7 linked regions of the Homo sapiens genome follow. The protein of the gene in region 7 purifies or fractionates together with the protein of the main gene of each other region. This does not show direct contact. Each region holds a gene or a part of one and is shown on either strand. Other genes may lie near its edges.

Region 1 (2,252 bases), on a different chromosome or scaffold from region 7:
AGAATCTTCAGGTGAGTAGCAAAGGACACCAAGGAAGTAGTCTGGTCAACGCTCACTCAGAGGCAGTAGTGGAACACAGTCCCTATTTATTAAAGGATGGGCCTTTTCTAAGGGCAGCAGAGCTGCTTCTGAGACCATGAGGTGCCCCTTCCCCCTCACCTACCTTCCCTTTATGTTCTCACATCAGACATATCTTATCTCCCTTCTAGGTGACTCTGATCCCTACTCATGACACGGAGGTGACTCGTGAGTGGTACCAACAAACTCATGAGCAGCAGCAACAACTGAATGTCCTGGTCCTGGCTAGCAGCAGCACCGTGGTGATGCAGGATGAGTCCTTCCCTGCCTGCAAGATTGAGTTCTGAAAGAGCCGCCCTCCCTTCCCCAAGGATCCACTCCCCCAGCTCCTTTAGAGAATGGCTACTGCTGAGTCCTTTGGGGTTGAGGGAGATGGGAGCTAGGGGGAGGGGAGGGAGATGTCTTGTTGTGGGGACTTGGGCTGGGCTAAATGGGAGGGGTTGTCCCTCCCCATCATCCATTCCTGTGAGGTGTCTCAAACCAAAGTTAACAGGGAGAGGATGGGGGAGGGGACAAATTAGAATAGGATAGCATCTGATGCCTGAGAACCCTCTCCTAGCACTGTCAAATGCTGGTATTGAATGGGGACTGAGGATGGGTCTCAGAGAGCAACCTCCTCCCTCGTAGAGGGAGATTATATCCCCAACTCCAGGGACCTCTTTATCTCAATCTATTTATTTGGCATCCTGGGAGGGATTTCCAATAGTAATTTATGTGACCTGGGGCAGGATACCGTCAGTGAGGTGCCCAGAGCTGCACCCTTTCCTCCATTTCCCATCCCCCATCTCCTCAACCACCAGGGTCTGAGTTCTAGCAGGGTCCTGGGGGTATCCCACTGCTATACTGTTCTACTGCTTCCCTCAGTATCTGAATGTCTCAATTTAAAACTTGAAGCTCTTTAGACCAATAGACTGGTGAGAGGAGAAAGGAGCTTATCCCCCAGACCCTGCTTTATACCATTCACATCCCAGGGCTGTGTCCAGACAGCACAAAACGGCAAGGAGAGCCCAAGCCCCAATGCCAGAATTCTTCCAAACTCCCTGACTCTTTGAAGTTTTTACTCACCCCATTTCAATTATCCTGATCCCTTCTCATCCCCTGCTTGGCTTCTCTGCATGTGGTCATCTGCTGTGGCTTGGTGTTTAATGGGTTAAAAATAAGCCACTGCCTGACATCCCAACATTTGACACCCCAGCAATGTGTGACTCCCCCAACATTCCACTATGCCATCCTGCAGCTGAAATGGGAACACTGGCTGCCTCTCCAAACCCGCTCTTGGACAGAGGATCTGGGAGGTGGAAGCCAGGCCAGAGGACTTGGGGAAAATGAGATGGAGGAAGGAAAAAGGGAGAAGCTGAGCCACAGCTTAACTCCTACAGAGTGAAATGAAAACGGGCTGAAAATACCACCCCAGGAGAGGACCTCGCCCCAAGCAAGCCAGTGAGCAGCCCTGCCAGACTACTGCCAGACTGAGAAACCCAGAAGCTGGTAGTCATGTGGGCTTGCCTTCTCTGCCAAACGACTGGGAAACCAAAATGAGCCCACCTTGTGTTCTTCCTAGCTCCACCCTCCCCGTGCTGCTGTGTTCTGCTCCTCCCCACGCTTCCCTGCTATAGTTCCCAGCTGCTGTAACGGAGCCACCTCCAACTCTAACAATAAACCAAGTTCATTGCAGATAGTGTAGTGCTGCTTAGGCTTTTTCTGACTCCATACATGCTTAGTTACTGGGCCCTGGCTTCTACCTCTCTGCTTCAACCAGTATTGAATTTATCTTGGAAGACTCCAATGCTTTTGATTACTGGAAACACTTGTGCCTGAGTATGAAGAATAGGAGCCTAGGGTGGATACATACATCTGGTCTGGGGGAGGGAAGAGGGGCAGAAGGCCTCCTGGGAAGGGGATATGCATTCCGTGGGGTCAAGAGTTGAGGACCAAATAACCAGGATCAGCTACCCTGGACAGCCTCTTGGGCTAAAGGGGTAAAAAGCTGAAGGACCCTAAGAGATCCAGAGCCTAATGAGGTTGGAAACAACTCTCCTTGTGCAGTCAGGATTTCCATGGAGTAAAACGGTCGACTTTCCTCCTCCATGGAAACCCTTTATAGTCCTAAGTATGTCAGAAGTGGCCAGGTTATGAATGTGTATATTTGGGGAGGGGCATATTCTAGCCCTCCC
Region 2 (3,500 bases), on a different chromosome or scaffold from region 7:
TGTGGGTTGGAAGGGTTAAGGAGTCTGGAAATTGCTTCATGGCACAAGGTAGATTTTGATATTGATCCTAGAATCACAGGTTTACAACAGGCAGAGACAGAAAGGCTGGAAACTCCAGGTAGAGAAAACAGCATAAGAAAAGGCATGGATTAAGAAAACAGAGGGCTGGGCACAGTGGTTCACTCCTGTAATCCCAGCACTTTGGGAGGCCAAGGCCAGCGGATCACCTGAGGTCAGGAGTTCAAGACCAGCCTGGCCAACATGGTGAAACCCCATCTCCACAAAAATACAAAAATTAGCCAGGCGTGCCAGCAGGCACCTGTAATCCCAGCTACTTGGGAGGCTGAGGTAGGAGAATCGCTGGAACCTGGGAGGCGGAGGTTGCAGTGAGCCGAGATCGGGCCATTGCACTACAGCCTGGGCAACAAGAGTAAAACTCCATCTCAAGGCTGAGCGTGGTGGCTCACGCCTGTAATCCCAGCACTTTGGGAGACCAAGGCAGGTGGATCACGAGGTCAGGAGTTCAAGACCGCCTGGCCAACATGGTGAAACTCCGTCTCTATTAAAAATACAAAAATTAGCCGGGAGTGGTGGCGGGCACCTGTAATCCCAGCTACTTGGGAGGCTGAGGCAGGAGAATCACTTGAACCCAGGGGGTGGAGGTTGCAGTGAGCCAAGATTGCGCCACTGCACTCCAGCTTGTGTGACAAAGTGTGACTGTGTCTCAAAACAAACAAACCAAACAAACAAACAAAAAAATACTCTGTCTCAAAAGAGAAGAAAACAGAGGACTGTTCCAGACCACCTGTCTGTGTGAGGGAAAAGTGAAAGAGCAGTTGCAACTGCAATTAACCTTGGCATAGTTAATCTCACAACCCTCAGCTCTACACTCCCAGTCCCTCAATCTTCACTCTGCTGGCAGGACTGCCCAATGCCACCTGTGCCAGCAACAACTGGCTCAAGGTTCTGGGGCAGTAAAAACAGTCCCGCTCCCCCATGATTGCTATCCTGTGGCTGCAGTGAACTATTTTACTCCCTCTCTTCATCAAGCAAGTATTTCTGGAGTGCCTACCATGTGTCAGGCATTCTTCTGGGCATTGGGAATACAGCCATCAACAAGCAGACATCACTGCAATCCTCAAGCAGCTTATTTTAAAGTGGAGAGGAGGCAGACACACAAATATGTAAGATGAAGTGGTGATGCATGCTTATTTGTGTCCATAAACATTGTTCATTCACCAAACAGCTACTGAACATCCTGGGGTCTGTCTCCTCTCACAACACAATAAACAGATTATTAATGCTTTTATCTGTGAGTGGCCAAAATGTAGATGACCCATCTGACTCAGGTAGGTGATAGGAAGGATTGTAGGTGTTCCCTCAGAGCCCTGAGCCAGAAAGCTTTCCTAGAGGACGCAGAAGCTATATGGTTCAGCACCAGAGAACATATAGCACCGTTACCGGAGCCGTGAGATCAAAGGTAATGACTGAGTTCAAGACTGTCACTTCCCCACTCTGTTACTTTATGACCCTAACTGCCTCTCTACAAGAATAAATCACATTCTTAACACAACAAGGGACTGGGGAAGCGAGCTCTGTTGAAAGAGGCAGATGATTTGCTAGAGAGGCTTAGTCCTTTCCAGTTAGGTTTGGGGAGAGACGACACCCAAGGTAGCATCTTAAGAGAGAAAAAGGGGCTAGAACAGCACCAGTGTGGGACTGAGAAGCCCGTTTGTCCATGTGAATCCTCAATTGTGACCCCACTAGGGCCCCACGAATGTGGGCTGAATTAAATTCCAGGGAAGAACACAGACAAGCAATGTCGATTTGAGCTTTTCATGCATGTGGGCATAGAAAAGAGTGGTGAAGAGGCTATAAGAATGAGGCAGAAGTTTGAATGCCTCCTGGTAGTTGTGTAACCTTATTTCACCAAATTCATTTTCTCATCTGCAAAATGAGACTGGTAATCAAAAAACCTACTTTAATGAATCAATATGATAATTACATAACAGGTGGTAAGCATTTGAAAATATTTCAAAATTATATTACTATTAAAAAAGAATGATAGGAAAGGAAACATTTTCCAGCCTCAACTCTGTGGTTTACCTGCTTCCAAACATTAATCCCTACACTACCTACAGCTACCTATCCACCTACCAATCTCACTGATGTGACCAACATTTAGAATGCACCAGCCTTTTTCTCCAAGCCTCCAGGCAGCCTACAGCAGACTTCCACAACACACTTGAAATCCTTCCACCCTTCCCCTTGCCCTCAGGTTCTCCGCCTCATATGTTCCCTCAAGCCAACAGATTTTCACCCAGATACTAGCTTCCTGCATGCATCAACATGATTATATCTTCCCCTTCCTCACTCTACTAAGTTTCTTCTAGCAAAGCACAGCCCTCCAAAGCCAGATTCCAGGAAAAGTCCCACCCACCAATGAACATACTCAGCTTGGATCCTCTAATCGCGGCCCAGGGTCAAAGTCCCAGGTTCACTCAGACTAAAAGTGGTACTATGCCTCCTGCATTACCATCCAAATAACTACTCCCACAGAGATGACGCTAGAGACCCTACCCAGCCTTATTCTCCTGTGAATCTCTACAGAACCACTTAACGGCCCCTATCGAGATTAATTTAAACCTTACTTATTAAAAAGTAAAGGCCCTCTTCTTTCTCCATTTTCCATGGTCCTCTTCATGGCTGGCCTTTCAAAACACAGCCTGGAGAATAAAGCAGCTTCTCCCTGCTTCTGCATCTGCTACTATCTTGCTAATAGGTCCTTCTCTCACCTGTCCTTCTTCCACCTGGACAACTCCTACTCATTCCTAGAGGTTCAGCTCAGACACCCCCCTCTCTATAGTGGTTTCCCTGAGGGTGAGCCTTCTCAGTGAAGAGCAGCCAAAACTTACCCTGTAAAAGCACTTAATACACGGACATGCCCCACTCCACCTTTTTCCCTCCCCCTCACACACACCACACACTTGTGTGCTCCTCAAAGGCAGGGACCATGTACACCTCATCTTTGTACGCTCAGGGCCAAGCCAGTTTCTGGTTCACCGTAAGCAGGCTCCAACCCCGGGTTTTACCTGCTACCTGCCATTTTCTATCTCCCTGTCTTTTTTCTGCTTAATGCAGCAAATATCTGTGCTAAGGGGGCTACACAGTTCTTATGAGTTACACTCTACCCGTGTACAAAATCCCCATCATCCAGCATCTTCAGCATAGTTCTGAAATCAAATCCGATCTAACTCTTGCCCCATTCCCAATTAACCCAGACTGGCTCAACAGCAGGGTAAAGTCACACGTCACCACCAAGAAGCAAAAGTTCTGGGTTGTAATTTTGAACACATCCCTAATTAGCTATATGACCTTGGGCAAGGGTTAAAATAAAGGTGACAGCAGCAGCAGGCCTCATTCTCAGGGGACCTTTGAGATTCAAATGGAGTATCTGATTGGAAAGTGTTTTATAAAGTGCAAAGCACTGTACATTCATA
Region 3 (3,500 bases), on a different chromosome or scaffold from region 7:
AAAAGTAGAATCGAGAGGGACAATGATGAGATTAGAGAGACCAGTTAGGAACTAGTCTAGGCACTGAGAAATGGTGGCTCCTCAAACTAGGGAGGAAAGTAGTGAAGTGATCCATTTCTTTCTTTTTTTTTTTTTTTTTTAAATCTTTTCCTCTCTCTGTTTTAAAAAAGTTTTCTTTTTAGAGAAGTGATCCATTTCTGAATACATTTTGGTAGTAAAATGGGTATTCTTTTTTTTTTTGAGACAGAGTCTTGCTCTGTTCCCCAGGCTGTAGTGCAGTGGTGCGATCTCGGCTCACTGCATGCTCCGCCTTCCGGGTTCACGCCATTCTTCTGCCTCAGCCTCCCCAGCAGCTGGGACTACAGGCGCACGCCGCCATGCCCGGCTAATTATTTTTGTAGAGACGGGGTTTCACCGTGTTAGCCAGGATGGTCTCGATCTTCTGACCTCGTGATCCGCCCACCTCGGCCTCCCAAAGTGCTGGGATTACAGGCGTGAGCCACCACGCCCGGCTCGTAAAATGGGTATTCTTAACAGAGCTAAGTTAAGGTGATTTAAGTGGTTTTGGCTTGAGCAACTCATATGGAGTTGTCTTAGCAAGGAAGACATAGTTATGGGAAGATTGGGAGTTTGGTTTCAAACATATCGATGTGTTAAAATGTCTTCTAGACATAAAGGGTACATGTGAGGAAGGCAGTTGAATCAGTATGTGTCCCTGTCTCTGCCCCCACAGCTCACTGACCAGGCATGGCTCCCAGCTGGGGTTCGAGTGCCCCTCCACCAAGTGCCCTATGCCGTGAAGGGCTGTTTCCGCTTCCTGCCCCCAGCCCAGGTTACTGTTGTGGGCAGCTACCTTCTGGGCACCTGCATCCGACCAGACATCAATGTGGATGTGGCACTGACCATGCCCAGGGTAAGGTCCAGGGTTTAGGGGATAGAGGCCCACCACCTGACTACCTACAAATCCTGGATCCCTCTTTCTTATCTGCCGCTTGCCAGGGGATTGAAGTCAGAATTCTAAATCAGAAGAGCAGACCATTGCAGGCATCCTGAAGGCAGCTTAGATCCCTCGGGCCAGTTGCTGTCCTTTTGGAGCTTTGCTCTCCAGATATGAGAACTGGGCCTAGTGTTGCTAACCGTGGCTCAGGCACTTCTGTCAGCAGAGGAGCCCTGGCTCTCTCACCTTGGTTTCACCTTGGCCCACAGCTCCACAAGCACTTATGTGCCTGGCCTTCTCTTCTCCCCTGGCCCCTCCAGGAAATCCTACAGGACAAGGACGGGCTGAACCAGCGCTACTTCCGCAAGCGTGCCCTCTACCTGGCCCACTTGGCTCACCACCTGGCCCAGGACCCCCTCTTTGGCAGTGTTTGCTTCTCCTACACAAATGGCTGCCACCTGAAACCCTCACTGTTGCTGCGGCCGCGTGGTGAGAGGCACACATTGGGCTGAGGGCATAGCATGGGATGGTAAATCTGGAGGAGAAGGCACAGAGGCACGGAGGCCTCAAGTATGGGGGGACAGGATGGGGAGCCCTCTGGCTCCAAGGGCTCCTGCAGAGTCTCAGCACTCACTGTCTCTGGCAGGAAAGGATGAGCGCCTGGTCACTGTACGTCTGCATCCGTGCCCTCCACCTGACTTCTTCCGCCCGTGCCGCTTGCTGCCAACCAAGAACAATGTGCGCTCTGCCTGGTACCGAGGGCAGAGTCCTGCAGGGGATGGTGAGCAGGCCCTGGTGTTGAGGTGGAGCTGGAGGGAAGAGGTGTGGGGACTTTTCCTCTCATGGCTTCCCTTTTCATCCCACAGGTAGCCCAGAGCCTCCTACCCCCCGCTATAACACATGGGTCCTGCAAGATACAGTTCTCGAGTCCCATTTGCAGCTGCTGTCAACCATTCTGAGTTCAGCCCAGGGCCTGAAGGATGGCGTGGCACTTCTGAAGGTCTGGCTGCGGCAGCGGGAGCTGGACAAGGTGAGTTGGGGGTGGCGCAGCCTCCCTACCTGAGCGCCTGTGTGATGGGCAGGCTCTGACCTCAGCCTCTCCCTGTCTCTTTCAGGGCCAGGGTGGGTTTACTGGGTTCCTTGTCTCCATGCTGGTTGTCTTCCTTGTGTCTACACGCAAGATCCATACCACCATGAGTGGCTACCAGGTCCTGAGAAGTGTCTTGCAGTTTCTGGGTGAGGCAACTAGGTGGGGAAAGGCCAGGGGCTCCACTCCTCCTGGGAATCCTCTCATCCCAGTAGCAGTCTTTTGGTGTTTTGCCATCAGACAGATGAGCAAACTGAATCGGCTGAGGGAGGGTGTCATTAGGGCTGGGTCCCCAGAAGGGGATACCTTCTAATACACTTGTGATTCACTTCAGCCACTACAGACCTGACAGTCAACGGGATCAGTTTATGTCTCAGCTCAGATCCCTCTTTGGTGAGTTGGGGAAGGGCCAGGTCTATGCCAGGAGGCCTGCAAGTAAGGTGCCAATCCTGACCTGCTTCTCTCTACACCCCCCAAGCCGGCCCTGGCTGACTTCCACCAGGCCTTCTCCGTTGTCTTCCTGGATTCCTCAGGCCATCTCAACCTCTGTGCTGATGTCACTGCCTCTACTTACCACCAGGTACCAATGGGCCCCCAATCTGTGTTCCCCTGATGTCTCAGCCCAGACTCTGTCCCTTTTGCAAGTACCAGAACCCCAGAAACTCCTCTTCAAAGAGTTAAGTTTAGGGCATGTCTCCTGGTCTAAGCCCTTGGATCAATGAAGGGCACAGGGATGGTCCCTTCTGTGGCTCCAGGTACAGCATGAGGCACGGCTGTCTATGATGTTGCTGGACAGCAGAGCTGACGACGGGTTCCACCTGCTGTTGATGACTCCCAAACCCATGATCCGGGCTTTTGACCATGTCCTGCAGTGAGTTTAGGGGTGACAGGGTATGTTGGCGGGTCCTGTCTCTTCGGGGCTACAGTGGTGGGGCAAAGGTCTTCAGACAGGTGCTCAGATCATTCAGGGAGGAGGTGGTACTAGGGGCCAGCAACCTGATTACCCCTCTTTGGCCCTTTGTACCCCTCCAGTCTCCGTCCACTGAGTCGCCTGCAGGCAGCGTGCCACCGGCTGAAGCTCTGGCCAGAGCTGCAGGACAATGGTGGGGACTATGTCTCAGCTGCTTTGGGCCCCCTGACCACCCTCCTGGAGCAGGGCCTGGGGGCTCGGCTGAACCTGCTGGCTCACTCTCGACCCCCAGTCCCAGAGGTGAGGTGGTGTAGGTTGGGGAGTTTGGGTCTGAGTTGGGCTGGATCCAGGGTCCCAAGAGACACAAAGGACACACCATTCCTCCAGCTAGGCGTTTCTAGCTAGCTAGAAAGTAGGTTTCTAGGCCAGGCTGGAGGATTGGAGGACTGAGCTCAGCCTTTTGAAATCCTGCAGTGGGACATCAGCCAAGATCCACCAAAGCACAAAGACTCTGGGACCCTGACCCTGGGACTCCTTCTCCGGCCTGAGGGACTGACCAGCGTCCT
Region 4 (3,500 bases), on a different chromosome or scaffold from region 7:
TCGAACCCTCAGCCGGAGAGAGAAGAAGAAGGCCACTGACGGCGTCACCCTGACGGGCATCAACCAGACAGGCGACCAGTCTCTGCCGAGTAAGCCCAGCAGGTGAGTGGGCGCCACCTCCATCCAAAAGAGGCCGTTCCATGGTGGGGGCCCTGGGCAATCTGCATGGTCCAGGGCAGCCCCGGCCTGGACACCTGGGAGGTTCCTGGGCTCCTGAGCTCTGTGGGCCGTGGCCCAGCCTGGACACCTGGGAGGTTCCTGGGCTCCTGAGCTCTGTGGGCCGTGGCCCAGGGGCATCTCCAGGGAAGGTCGTCTTCCTGCCTGGTGCCAGAGCTGCTGACAGATCCAGAGAGGGAGGCTTGGCCCTGAGCTTCAGACCTGAGTGGGGAGGAGCTGATGACAGGGCTGGCATTCATGTCCCCAGGGATAGCACCGCCCTGCCCGGACACTGGTGGAGGTGCCACCCTGGTTCCCTCAGGCAGCTGAGGTCCTGCCGAGGTTCATGCTCACTCTGTATTGTGTGCAGGCGCCAGTCGAGGGAGGGACAGGAGAGGACTGCCAGGCATCTCCTTTCCAAATTACCTCTTCACTAGGAGCATTGGTTATTTCTGACTTAGTCATTGGCTGAAAATGAGAGATATAAGGGTGGCACTGTGGTCATTAGAACCTTCTGGAAAGTGTGTGCTAGAGGAGGTCTTCCTATAGGACCTGCCCACAGGCCTCCATGTGACACTCAGTAATAGTCATTTCATACGGGGGCTTCCTAAGAAGGCTTAGCCCAGGTTCCCTTGGCCTTCCTGCAGCCCCAGGCACTGAAGCCCCCACCCAGGCTCCCCAGCAGGTGTGGCTGTCGTCATTCCGCTGCTTTGCACGCTGTCTGGGCAGGTGGGCTCGGCAGTAAGTGCCTGTCCCAGGGATCAGGCCAGCACCTGTATGCTTGGGGGTGGGAATGGGAAAGAAGAAACACTGCCTCAGAGGAGACCCTGGGGGCCCTGGGCTGGCCAGGGTTGCTGCACAATCCAGCCGCCCCCACCAGTGCCGTCTCACAACAGTCTGCTAGAGAAAGGTGCCAAGGAGGGAGGAGGGCCGGTGAGCTCAGACATGTGGCCTGGATATTGGCCTCCAGCAGGCCTAGGTCAAGTACCACTTGCCAGGCTGAAGTGGATGAGGCAGTTACTGGCCACTCAGGATCACCCTGGTGGCATTGGAGGCATGTCCTCGCCTCCCTTCCTTGGTTCTGGGGTGGTGGGTGCTCAGGCTGAGCAGTCCATCCAGTGCTTTGGGGGCCTGTGCCCTGAGGCCCTGGTCTTGGAAGTAGAAGGTGCTGCTGGCCAGGGTAGCCCGGTCCTAGGATCAGTTACTTGGTGGGGTGCCAGGGCCCTTGGTGCCTGTCTGATTGGATTGCTTGATGGTCTGCCTGTGGTCTTCGTAGTGTGTAACTCAGCTCCCGGCTCCCAGCCCTCAGGCAGAGCTTGGCCCAGATCTCTCTGGTTCCCACACTGGGCCTGGCAAACAGTAGGCAGTTGCACGACTGGATTTTCCCTCTGGAGCACCAAAGGAATCTTCTTTCTATCTAGAAAAGACGGTGCCGCAGGCCCTGGCCCTGATTTTGGAGGCTTCAGCTCCACAGAGCAGAAGAGCGAGCCCTGAACCCCTTAGTAGTCAGGAGGAGGCCGTGTGGGCTGAAGAGCTCAGAGCCCTCTCCCACTCATCCATGGGAGCCGGCCCCTCCCACACTGTCACTCTCAGAGGAGACCCTGAGGGGCTTTTTGACCCCCCCAGCTCACATTGGTGGGAGTCAGGACAGAGGAGAAGCCCTGAACCTGGAAACGACTTTTGCTCCAGCTGTGGCTTGTCACCCGCCCCTGGGCCACCCCAGGGCCCCTGTTCTGGACGGACTGTCTCCAGGTGCAAGGAAGGAAAAGGGAAACCAAGTCCTCTCCTAGGCTCCTGGACCGTGTTTCACAGCTGAAGTATTGCCCGCATTCTGCCATAGTAACCTTTCTGTTGAAACACCACGGTCCCCTCCGGTCACAGGAGGAGCTGATTTGTCTCTTGAGATCCTGCAGCTAGGAGTTGCCAGGACCCTCACGGGCCCCTGCAGAGCTGGGATCCCCTGAAAGCTCTCTCTCTCCATAGCACCCTTAATGTCCCGAGCAACCCCGCCCAGTCTGCGCAGTCACAGTCCAGCTACAACCCCTTCGAGGATGAGGACGACACGGGCAGCACCGTCAGTGAGAAGGACGACACTAAGGCCAAAAAGTTGGTGAACAAATGCTTCCTCTGCTCCCACCGCGCTCACTCTGTCTCTCTTCCTCTCTCTCTGTCCAGGGGTCTCACCCCTCGGCACTCGGCAATGCACGGAGCTCTGCAGGAAGTGGGCACCTGGCGTGCCGCACCCTGGCCCACTACCTGCTCTCTGGCACAGGCTCTCTGGCACCCCCATTCCTCGGGGAGGGCACAGCTAACAATCTTAAGTTGCTTTTTCTCTGTCCTCTGTTAACCCTTCAAGGCCCTAGCAGCACCATGACAGGAAAACAGACAACGCGCAGTCTGTGCTGGGGACTAGAGAGTGAGGCCCCAGGTTGGCCTCTGCTGTGGGCATCTCCAGCCGCCTGCCCCTGGAAAGCCTGTTGATGGCTCAGGATGAGTGTGGATGGCATGAACTCACACTAGCACTGGCTCCACCTGTGCTCCTTCGGAAGGAGCCCTCAGCCCTGAGCCCCAAGGCTCCAGTGCCCTCCCCTTGCGGGGCGGGGGCCTCACACCCTCTGCCGCCCTGTGCTGAGGGCCCTGTGGCCTCCCCTTTCTTGCAGTGTGAGCAGCTACGAGAAGACCCAGAGCTATCCCACCGACTGGTCAGACGATGAGTCTAACAACCCCTTCTCCTCCACGGATGCCAATGGGGACTCGAATCCATTCGACGACGACGCCACCTCGGGGACGGAAGTGCGAGTCCGGGCCCTGTATGACTATGAGGGGCAGGAGCATGATGAGCTGAGCTTCAAGGCTGGTAGGTGGGCTCCCCCAGCATCCAGGGGAGGAGGGCTTCCAACCTGCAGGCTGTGGGCGGTCTTTTTTGTTTTTTAAGTCTGGAAAAGTTCTTGCTAGTTTCACTTGTGAGTCACTGCAGGCCCTTCCCCAGTGCCCTGGCTTCATTGTCAAAAGCAGCCAATTGGCTGGATGTGGTGGCTCATGCCTATAGTCCCAGAGCTTTGGGAGGCCGAGGTGGAAGGATCGCTTGAGCCCAGGAGTATGAGACCAACCTGGGCAAAATGGCAAAACCTGTCTCTACAAAAAATACAAAAAATTAGGCCAGGCATGGTGGCTCACGCCTGTAATCCCAGCACCTTTGGGAGGCCAAGGCAGGCAGATCACTTGAGGTCAGGAGTTCGAGCCCAGCCTAACCAACATGGTGAAACCCTGTCTCTACTAAAAATACAAAAATGAGCCAGGCGTGTGGCGGGGCATCTATAATCACAGTTACTCAGGAGGCTGCG
Region 5 (3,208 bases), on a different chromosome or scaffold from region 7:
AAGGTCCGTGACCCTCATGGCAGCCCCACGAGGACGTCACCATTCTCATTATCCACCATGTGAGGTCTAGGGAGTGGAAGTGACCTGCCCAGCACCACAGGGTCAGGATAGAAGGTCCAGGCCCAGTCCGACCCCAGCAACCACATCTTTCCTGGCTTCAGAACTGACAGCATCTCATGGACACCATGCCCCTCCCTGACGAGGCAGCAGCAAGTAGTGGGGGCCGGAGCTGTGTGTGCACCCTCCCAGGGGGCAGCCCCACACTGCTCAGTTCATCACCTGGCTTGGGTGAAGGCAGCACCTGACTTGCATTTGCTTTATTTTACAATTTTATTTTATTTACTTATTTTAGTTTATTATTATTTTTTGAGACAGAGTCTTACACTGTTGCTCAGGCTGGAGTGCAATTGTGCGATCTCCACTCATTGCAACCTCCGCTTCCCGGGTTCAAGCAATTCTCCTGCCTCAGCCTCCCGAGTAGCTGGGATTACAGGCACCCTCCACCACGCCTGGCTAATTTTTTTGTATTTTTAGTAAGACAGTGTTTCACTATGTTGGCCAGGCTGGTCTCGAACTCCTGACCTCGTGATCCACCCACCTCGGCCTCCCAAAGTGCTAAGATTACAGGCGTGAGCCACCGCACCTGGCCTATTTTATTTTATTTTTTTGGAGACAGAGTTTTGCTCTTTTTGCCCAGGCTGGGGTGCAATAGTGCATTCTCAGCTTGCCGCAACCTCCCGGGTTCAAGTGATCTTCTTGCCTCAGCCTCCCGAGTAGCTGGGATTCACCTTTGCTTTAGAAAGGACAACTCCCCAACTTGCAAACATGGCCCTGAGTAGCTCTCATCTGTGGGCTGCACCCTACCCACGTCCTACCACCTGAATTTGCTGGGCAGGCTGGAGGGACAGAGGCCCAAGGCTCGGCCTCCCCCTCCACTGCTCACCTGCACGGGCCGTCCGGCCGACTCGGTGGATGTAGATCTTGGGGAGCCCGGGGGTGTTGTGGTTGATGACCACCTGTACCGTAGGGATGTCCAGGCCCCTGGAGGCAGAGGTGGCTGGTCAGCTCCACTGTCCATGTGGGGAAACCGAGGCAAGGACTCACCCAGGGTCACTCAGCAGGGATGCTAGGGCTGCCTGACATGCCTGAGGCCAGCCTTCTCATCTGTGGGGCCTTGTAGTAAAAGAGGGAGTGCCCTTGGCAGGAGACTGGGGGCTGCTCACCGGGAGGCCACGTCTGTTGCGATCAGGATCCGGTAGATGCTGGACTTGAACTTGGCTAGGGCGGCAAAGCGTTCTTTCTGCACAGGGTTGGGAAGAAAATTGGGAATGCATGAAGGCAGGGTTTTCTGTGTGAGGCCTCGGGACAGGGTGGAGGCCGGGACAGTCCCCAGCCGTCCATTGAGGAAGGTGGCCATGAGAAGTCAGACCGGGACAAATGAATGACGGCTAAAAGAGATGCGGTCAGGGAGGGCCTCTTGAGCTGCGATATTCTGGGACCAGAAGAGACCAGGTGGCAGGAAGAAGGCGCCCGGCAGAAGGAAGGATCGGGGCCAATGTCTGAGGCGGGGAAGGTATCCCAGGGTGAGGCTGGCGGGCCCCAGGGTGGCCTCACCTGCTTCATCATGGAGTGCAGAGCCACGGTGGGGAAGCTGAATTTGCGCAGCATCATGCACAGAATCTGGCAGGTCCTGGCGGGAAGGATGTGCCTGTCAACCCCTCCAGCTCTCAGGTTCTGGGAAGGTGTTCCTGCCCCCACCCGCCCCTGAGACACCTAGCACAGTGGCCTCATGCAGCTTAGAAAGGAGAGGCAGCAGGCCAGGCACGGTGGCTCATGCCTGTAATCCCAGCACTTTGGGAGACTGAGGCGGGTGGATCACTTGAGGCCAGGAGTTCAAGACCAGCCTGCCCAACATGGCAAAACCCCATCTGTACTAAAAACACAAAAATTAGCCGGGCATGATGGTGTATGACTGTAGCCTCAGCTACTCAGGAGGCTGAGGCAGGAGAATTGTTTGAACCCAGGAGACAGAGGTTGCAGTGAGCCGAGATTGCGCCATTGCACTCCAGCCTGGGGGACAGCGTGAGACTCTCAAAAAAAAAAAAAAAAAAAAGAGGCAGGATGAGGGTTGACAGACGGCTTGCCTGCCTGATGTCCTCTCTGCTGATCCCTCCCTGGAGCTGGAACTGACAAGAGTTGGCCCTGGGACTGCAGGGCTGGAAGGCTGGAAACTGACTTGCTAGGGGTGGTCACTGTTACCAAGAAGGCCAAGAAGGAGCCAGCAGAGGAAAACAGAGGAGAAAGAGGGGCACAGGGAGAAAGGATGGGGACCATCACATAAGCTGCTGGATCCTGCCACGCCTGACAGCCACCCTGCAGCCAAACTTTTCTCTCTTTTTCCCTGAGACAGTCTCACTTTGTCCCCCAGGATGGAGTGCAGTGGCGTGATCTCGGCTCACTGTAACCTCCACCTACCGGGTTCAAGTGATTCTCCCGCCTCACCTTCCCCAGTAGCTGGGACTACAGGTGCTCGCCACCATGCCTGGCTAATTTTTGTATTTTTAGTCGAGATGAAGTTTCACCACGTTGGGCAGGCTGGTCTCGAACTCCTGACCTCAGGTGATCCGCCTACCTCGGCCTCCCAAAGTGCTGGGATTACAGGTGTGAGTCACTGCACCCAGTCCCAACTTTTCTCTTCTGGGAGGTAACGCATTTAAAGCGCCTTGATTTCTGCCCTTCTATCCTGGCTCATGCTGGAAGAGCCTCCAGCTTCTCAATGACCTTCCCAAACAATTCAATGAAGATATGAACTGCCCTCCCCAGGGGTCTCTGTCTGTGCAGACGCACACCAGGCCTGTTAGTTGTCACAACTTCCTCTGAGATGGGACTAAAGGCCCAGGAAAGCTCAGTGACACCCCCAGAACACAGCAAATGGGCTGCTCAAACAGCTGCTTGCAGGGGTTTCCTGGCCCTTCCATCAACGGCTGGGCTGAGGAACCCCAAAGGCCGGCTGCACCTTCAGATTGAGGGACCTTGGCTCCTTGAGGGAAGCCCCCATGACCTCCAGGCTGAGCAGAGGCTGGGGAGTGCTGAGACTGGCTGTGTGTCCCAGACCAAAGACGTCGGGCCACCTCCTCCTTTGAAGGGCGGTGGGAGGGGAGAGGCGGGCCCCGCTCACTTGCACGTGTTGGTGAAGATGATAATGGAC
Region 6 (3,500 bases), on a different chromosome or scaffold from region 7:
TACGCCTGTAATCCCAGCACTTTGGGAGGCCGAGGTGGGTGGATCACGAGGTCAGGAAATCAAGACCATCCTGGCTAACACGGTGAAACCCTGTCTCTACTAAAAAATACAGAAAAATTAGCTGGGCGTGGTGGCAGGCGCCTGTAGTCGCAGCTACTCGGGAGGCTGAGGCAGGAGAATGGCGTGAACTCCGGAGGCGGAGCTTGCAGTGAGCCGAGATCGCGCCACTGCACTTCAGCCTGGGTGACAGAGCGAGACTCTGTCTCAAAAAAAAAAAAAAAAAATTTGAGGGACTTCTTGATCATTTGAATTCTTGTGTGCTACCTGATATCATAATCCCTCTTGCTCTCTCCTTTGGGTTTATTGTTCATTCAGGTCAGGTGACAGCCCTCAAAAGTTAGGATCCCGTCTGGTTTTCTAGGTTCATTTTTTTCTTGTGTCATTTACTGTTTCCAACTTACTCGCTTGTGAAGAATCTGAGTACTGAATCCTTCATGATTTTAGTGAACTTTCTGATTTATTTTGTCCAGCCACAGATGGTTTTATATTTGATGATAAAACATTTCCTCTTTTTCCTCAAAGTATTTATAGATTCCTGTGGCTTAAATTTTTAGTTGCGGGGCCTTTTTCTATGGAAGTAAGGTGAAGATAATGAAAGTCATTGGTATTTCTTAGATTTTTCATGCTCAAAAGTCACAAGGGACTTTGTAAACTGAATCTGATTGATGATAATTGCAACCTAAAAGAAGAGGATTTGAATTTCTGAAGTTTATGCCAGAACTGACATCTATTCTGATTCCTGTTCCAATCAGTCCTTCATTAAAAGTTGCCTGTTTCTGCCAGTATGCTCTTACTGTTAAAATTTTGACAGAATATAATGTAGTAAATTTATCCTCTGAGAAGGAAAATCCACGTTCACTTCTCTTTCAAAGGAGAATTTTTCTGTCTTTGGGTTCTGGCATTTTCTGTCTCTGGGTTCAAGTGTGTCTGGTTCTATAGGAAGCTCTTCGTGTGGTGAAGATCTTACAGAACCTTGATCCGCCATTTAGCATTGATGGGAAGATGGTAGCTGTAAACCTGGCCACTGGAAAACGAAGGTAAGGCAGAAGGGTGAGGATCTCTTGTGCTGCCCCCACTTGTGTTTTTGAGAGGAAACTCCTTTTCCTGGCTGGAAAAACAGTAAAGCATGATGTTTTCCTAACATGGACTGCTTCAGATAGGTGTTTATTACAGTTTCTTTCTGAAGCCTGACTTGTCCTGACTCTCGAATTGTTTTCTTTCTTGAATAATACTAGGTACTTTTGTCCTTTCCCTTTTGACTGTCTGGTATCTTTGGGTCCCAAATGGCCTGGCGTGGTAGCACATATCTCTATTCCAAGCTACTAAAGAGGCTGAGGCGAGATGGGGAGCGGGTTACATGAGCCCAGGAGTTCTAGGCCATAGTGTGCAATGAAGATGCCTGTGAATAACCACTGTACTCTACCCTGGGCAACACAGCAAGACCCTATCTCTTAACAAAAAAATGATGGTACAGTTTTGGATGTGCAGACACATGTCAATACATTCTTGCCCCTTGCAATCCTAGGAAAATGCTGTCCTGGCTTTTCCTTCCCCTGACCTTGTGCATATTTCCATAGCACTGGGAAATCTAATTTCTCTTTCCTCCTTCACTCATCTTGACCCAGGAGTGGTAACTTGGAAATGGCCATGTCAGAGAAACAGGCTTACCAATATGGGGCATATCTTGCTCTAGCACCCTCCACTTAATGGCTGTTTTGCTCCACCACTTGGCTTTGTAAGAGTCTTACTGCTCATTGGGCAGGCGTGGTGGCTCACGCCTGTAATCTCAGCACCTGGGGAGGCCGAGGCGGGCAGATCATGAGGTCAGGAGATTGAGATCATCCTGGCTAACACGGTAAAACCCCGTCTCTACTAAAAATACAAAAAAAAAAAAATTAGCTGGGCGTGGTGGTGGGCACCTGTAGTCCCAGCTACTTGGGAGGCTGAGGCAGGAGAATGGTGTGAACCCAGGAGGCGGAGCTTGCAGTGAGCTGAGATCACGCCACCGCACTCCAGCCTGGGCGACAGAGCAAGACTCCGTCTCAAAAAAAAAAAAAAAAAAAAAAAGAGTCTTACTGCTCATTCTTTCAGGAGTGTCTGGACCACCCAACCTGCTTGCTGTCTAGGTTGGTTCCTTTCCCTGCAAAATGAGGAACAGAGGATTTCTCGATAGGAACTGTAGGATTAAGTACTCGTCAAATGCCACTTGGTAGCAGCCTTAAGAATTGTTGTGTTATCTGTTGCAGAAATGATTCTGGGGACCATTCTGACCACATGCATTACTATCAGGTAGGCTGTAACAGGTGGGGAGTGCTCTATTAAAATCCTCAGGTGACTATAAGGGTGATCTTGAATTTTCTTTAGTGGGTGACTGTTAAGGTGAATGACCATTGGATAGTTCTGTAATTTTAACTTGCCTTTCTGTGATAGGGTAAAAAATATTTCCGAGATAGGAGGGGAGGTGGCAGAAATTCAGACTGGTCTTCAGATACAAATCGACAAGGACAACAGTGTAAGTAACCTTTGTTTTATTTCTGTTGCTCTTTTTTGCTTGACTTGCTACTCATTACTTGACATCTGTGTGATCACAGTTGGCAAGATACACTGTTGACTGAGGGTGCTCATCCAGAGAGAGGCATCTGTAGATGCACCTATTTGTGTTGGTCACCCTAATTCTTGGGTTCTTGATGAGTCTCCAGTAAGGGCTTCATTGGACAGAGACTAACATTGGCTCTGATCTTGTTACCTTTAGCATCATCTGACTGCTACATATATGATTCTGCTACTGGCTACTATTATGACCCCTTGGCAGGAACTTATTATGACCCCAATACCCAGGTGAGTTTGGGGCTTTTTTTTTTTTTTTTTTTTTTTTACCTCTGTCAATGATTCTTTTGAGAAAAGCACCCATAATTTGCTACTTGAGGATTTTATTCCCTGGATTCTCTGGATGCTCATTGCATGAAAAGTGGAAAAGTTTAGATCTATGGAAACAGAACTGTTGCCTATATGGAAAATCAGTGCCTTGTGGCAATACAGGTAAGAACAGTGTTGCTCTTGAAAAAGTGGACAGTGGGTGGTCTGAATGTGTCCTGGTCCCTGGAGTGGGTTTTTAGATTGATGTGGACTCTTCTTAGACTTGTAAGTAAAAAAGTTGTTTCTTCCCCTAAAAGGGAACTGTGCGCCTTAGACCTGGAATTGCTGGGAAACTGAAACATTCTGTAGACTTACTTGTTTCCAACTGTATCGCAGCAAGAAGTCTATGTGCCCCAGGATCCTGGATTACCTGAGGAAGAAGAGATCAAGGAAAAAAAACCCACCAGTCAAGGAAAGTCAAGTAGCAAGAAGGAAATGTCTAAAAGAGATGGCAAGGAGAAAAAAGACAGAGGAGTGACGAGGGTAAGAGGAATTGTTAATTTGCTGTCTTTTGCCACATAGTT
Region 7 (3,500 bases):
CTGTAATCCCAGCACTTTGGGAGGCTGAGGCAGGGGGATTATTTGAGGTCAGGAGTTCGAGACCATGCTGGCCAACATGGTGAAATCCCGTCTCTACTAAAAATACAAAAAAACTAGCTGGGCGTGGTGGTGTGTGCCTGTAGTCCCAGCTACTTGGGAGACTGAGGTAGGAGAATCGCTTGAACCTGGGAGGCAGAGGCTGCAGTGAGCCAAGATCATGCCACTGCTTTCCAGCCTTGGAGACAGAGCAAGATAACATCTCAAAAACAAACGAGCAAACAAAAAATTAAAGTTTCTATCTCCCACCCTAGATAGTACATTTTAATAACTCATTAGTTCTTACATGTAAGGAGGAGGCAGTTTGGAGTCATTAACTAAAAACAATATTATTTTTTATTTACCCATCTAAAATAATCAGATGTACCAGCCTACCTTCTATGGTTAGACCGCTTTCGAATTTCCTCTTGAAAGCTGCATAATTCTTCACTCACCTTCGCAAGTTCTTCAAGAGCCTTTACACATATAAGCAACAGCCCGTTAGCACTTTGAAATGTAAATATTTCTTTAGAAACAGTTCTAGGCCAATCACATCTTACTTACTGTACTGAGGGCGCCAGAACAGCTCTTGCTGTCTTCCTCAGAAGTCCTCAGGTCAGGCCAGGCCTCACATTCCTTTTGGTTGTCTGTAGCCAAAGGATCCAAAAACCCTACTTTTGATTTTTTTGTTGCTTTTTGTTCCTTACACATTTGATTTCCTCCACTGACTAAGCTCTGCTCTCTTTTATTTTCTTTTCTCAGACCATCTTTGTGATTCGTCCTTATAAATTCACTTTGTCCTAAATCGGGGTAATTTGGGGAAGATTCTATCACTTTCTCTGGAATGGTCTTCTCATGGTAAAGATCAATGATCTTAGCACTTTCATTGATATTGATTTTCCTCCAAAGCTTTACTTCCCGGCAAAGCTGTAAGAAAAACAAAACAAAATTAAAACTTCTTTTCCCCTAATTCACTTTGCTAATATTCTTGATACTAAGCAAACCGCTTTGAGTTCTCTTTGCCATATTAAAATATACTTCCTGGGTATTAATGCTTCGGCCTCCAAATAGTGCCTCTAAAATATGGATTAGCTGGAACAAGTTTGATGAAACATAAAGGCTACTTTTAGTAGGGCAACACATGGATGCTAATTCTTTTGACTAGCAATCAATCATTCAAAAATAAAATAAATCTGTATCTGTATATAAATACAGAAACACTGTCACAAAATTAGAATGACCTGAATCAATTACTGGCCATATTATATAATTGCTTTCAGAGAGATGCAAGAATTTAACATTAAAGTCATAGTTTTCAAATGTCTGGTCCTACTTGTACACTAACATTTAACTGTCTAAATGCTTGACAATCTCAGATAGTAAGTCAACTTATTCTTGTTCCCTAAACAGTCACTTGTCAGTCAAAAGATGTTTCCTTTGGTTGGTCAATTACATTGTGAGGGCTAGATATTACTGAGATTTTTAAAAAATCTCAAAGTGATACACATTTTTAAAATATTTCTCATCCAGATTAAAACAAATATGACAATACCCTACGTGATATAATAGAACTGCAAGGCTTTGATCATCTATTAGTCTGTATTAAGGTAGAATCCAGATTACTTCTTTATGAGATCTTAGTTGAACCTGCACACACTCATTCAGTTCACTTCTGAATAGAGGAAAGAAATGGCTTTCTCTTTAGGCTTGGGTCATGTAAAAGCTTGTCAAACTTCAAAAGAGACTGTCAGATGACTATCAAAGCAAATGACTCTATGTTTAACAGCCGCAATCAATATCTACACTACATGTATTATTCAAGTAATATAATAGATTTATTGCTGCTTAATACATACCGATAACTCAGTTGAGAGAAGCACTAGAGTTGATGCCTGAAAAATATACAGTGTATTTATTTTTCTAATGCTTACAAATGTATTAGTATTTATTGTATGAAGTCAGGATAGCATCAAACTGCAGCCATGAATTGATTGTTTGGTCCCTGCCAAATTATTTGTACTGAACTTCTGCGGGCATTATGGTTTGAGCTGACCTTGAGGGATATAAGAAGGAACCCTAAAAAGTGACATGTTAAATCTAAGGATGCTCTTGGTGACACTGTCCTGTTTTTGCGAAGTCATGAGTGAAAACAAAATTGCTTTAGTTGCAAAACCGGGAAAAATGTGCTATTCCTGGGAAATAAGTTTGCCTTATCATTTGAATTTGAAGGTATATGCACCTGATAATTTTTGTTAGTTACTAGAAAGACTCACTGGTACATTTCATATATGATCCTTCCTCCTGTCTTCAGCTCATCTTTCCATTTTTGTTTTTGCATATTTTATATCATACCTAATTTTATGCCATCTTAAATTTTCTTGATTTAGGTGAGGTATGAATCAACAAATAACAATGTTATTGATGGAAAACTATTTTGTACAAAGGTACTATGTTACTTGGTACTCAGCCCTTGTCAATGGTTATCTGATTATTCTACCAAAGGATACAGGCAGGAGACTACAGTGTGGAAAAAAACAAAACAAAACCCCAGACGTCTATAAGTTCTATCCAGAATTTCTATCTGGATTATTTCAAATTTCAAATGATCCAAGTATGAACATCTTGGTTTTGCCATAGCAAATGCAATGACTGTGGATAGTGGCTGAACAGGGAACTACGAGCATCTTAATAGCCAACACTGCATCCTCTCATTAGATATTATCACTTAAAGTCACTGAAGATATATGTGCATACCTGGGAATCTACAGTTCTCTAGTACATGGCTTAATAATTTACATCTGATTTAACATACAGAACTTTGTGATAAATGTTAAACAAATACAATCTTTTATGCTTGTGGCATGAGATTATTTTTCCAAGTGTTGATTTCTTAATTTTAGTTTAGTTATGGAGCTGTATAGCACAGGCAGCAAAACATAAACAGCAGTACAGCTACTCTCCAAGATAAAAAAATATGACAGCCCGTTTGTCTCTCTGATACAGAAAGGGATGTTATCTCTATGAGGTATAATTTGATGTTTAAAGCATATTTCATGCCTGCTAATTGATAAAGCTAATATTTACCATAGATGAACTCTATAGAATTGTCAGAATAATTATTGGACAGTAATAAATTTAATCAGACAGCAGCTTCTTTTAACTACATGGCTTTAAAAAATTGGCTAGACTAATCCTGCATCCCTTAGTTATTTTGCTTGGATGCTAGAATTGTCTGAGACTGTTATGAACTGAACTTCCCAAACATTTGGAAGGCAATGACCTAGGACTACAGGTCAGTTTCTGATTGCGCTGGAGTTTTGGATTCTGATTTGACCAGGGAATCTCTTTGTTGATCCAATCCGAGTATGGGTAGAGGGGTTAAAGGAGCAAGCAGGACACATTTTCTAAACTATAGAGGGACAAGAAGTATATATTCTCCTTTAATCCCTAATCATACACCACAT

The links.
Region 1: the proteins of KIAA0408 (region 7) and MAP1A purify together in Homo sapiens (affinity purification with mass spectrometry; one large-scale study listed by BioGRID and IntAct). This does not show direct contact.
Region 2: the proteins of KIAA0408 (region 7) and LPP purify together in Homo sapiens (affinity purification with mass spectrometry; one large-scale study listed by BioGRID and IntAct). This does not show direct contact.
Region 3: the proteins of KIAA0408 (region 7) and NOL6 purify together in Homo sapiens (affinity purification with mass spectrometry; one large-scale study listed by BioGRID and IntAct). This does not show direct contact.
Region 4: the proteins of KIAA0408 (region 7) and PACSIN2 purify together in Homo sapiens (affinity purification with mass spectrometry; one large-scale study listed by BioGRID and IntAct). This does not show direct contact.
Region 5: the proteins of KIAA0408 (region 7) and DDX49 purify together in Homo sapiens (affinity purification with mass spectrometry; one large-scale study listed by BioGRID and IntAct). This does not show direct contact.
Region 6: the proteins of KIAA0408 (region 7) and RBM6 purify together in Homo sapiens (affinity purification with mass spectrometry; one large-scale study listed by BioGRID and IntAct). This does not show direct contact.

Annotation. Positions count from the first base shown.
Region 1 is NC_000015.10:43,529,860-43,532,111, forward strand, and holds the end of MAP1A (microtubule-associated protein 1A), read left to right. Parts: coding exon 1-11; intron 12-209; coding exon 210-365; 3' UTR 366-1,752; downstream 1,753-2,252. UniProt on the Homo sapiens protein: Structural protein involved in the filamentous cross-bridging between microtubules and other skeletal elements.
Region 2 is NC_000003.12:188,157,157-188,160,656, reverse strand, and holds part of LPP (lipoma-preferred partner), read right to left. Parts: intron 1-3,500. UniProt on the Homo sapiens protein: May play a structural role at sites of cell adhesion in maintaining cell shape and motility. In addition to these structural functions, it may also be implicated in signaling events and activation of gene transcription.
Region 3 is NC_000009.12:33,467,425-33,470,924, reverse strand, and holds part of NOL6 (nucleolar protein 6), read left to right. Parts: intron 1-733; coding exon 734-913; intron 914-1,257; coding exon 1,258-1,426; intron 1,427-1,583; coding exon 1,584-1,718; intron 1,719-1,803; coding exon 1,804-1,967; intron 1,968-2,052; coding exon 2,053-2,173; intron 2,174-2,358; coding exon 2,359-2,417; intron 2,418-2,502; coding exon 2,503-2,604; intron 2,605-2,779; coding exon 2,780-2,895; intron 2,896-2,989; exon of another isoform or gene 2,990-3,056; coding exon 3,057-3,234; intron 3,235-3,408; coding exon 3,409-3,500. UniProt on the Homo sapiens protein: Part of the small subunit (SSU) processome, first precursor of the small eukaryotic ribosomal subunit.
Region 4 is NC_000022.11:42,875,650-42,879,149, reverse strand, and holds part of PACSIN2 (protein kinase C and casein kinase substrate in neurons protein 2), read left to right. Parts: coding exon 1-102; intron 103-2,139; coding exon 2,140-2,262; intron 2,263-2,816; coding exon 2,817-3,013; intron 3,014-3,500.
Region 5 is NC_000019.10:18,922,715-18,925,922, reverse strand, and holds part of DDX49 (probable ATP-dependent RNA helicase DDX49), read right to left. Parts: coding exon 3,179-3,208; intron 1,691-3,178; coding exon 1,615-1,690; intron 1,301-1,614; coding exon 1,224-1,300; intron 1,042-1,223; coding exon 944-1,041; intron 1-943. UniProt on the Homo sapiens protein: ATP-dependent RNA helicase that plays a role in various aspects of RNA metabolism including the regulation of mRNA export and the levels of pre-ribosomal RNA. Regulates the stability and synthesis of pre-ribosomal RNA and thereby regulates cell proliferation.
Region 6 is NC_000003.12:50,058,650-50,062,149, forward strand, and holds part of RBM6 (RNA-binding protein 6), read left to right. Parts: intron 1-999; coding exon 1,000-1,097; intron 1,098-2,151; coding exon of another isoform or gene 2,152-2,233; exon of another isoform or gene 2,234-2,306; coding exon 2,307-2,349; exon of another isoform or gene 2,350-2,350; intron 2,351-2,490; coding exon 2,491-2,572; intron 2,573-2,812; coding exon 2,813-2,898; intron 2,899-3,312; coding exon 3,313-3,459; intron 3,460-3,500. UniProt on the Homo sapiens protein: Specifically binds poly(G) RNA homopolymers in vitro.
Region 7 is NC_000006.12:127,449,390-127,452,889, forward strand, and holds part of KIAA0408 (uncharacterized protein KIAA0408), read right to left. Parts: intron 1,929-3,500; exon of another isoform or gene 1,893-1,928; intron 964-1,892; coding exon 601-963; intron 513-600; coding exon 433-512; intron 1-432.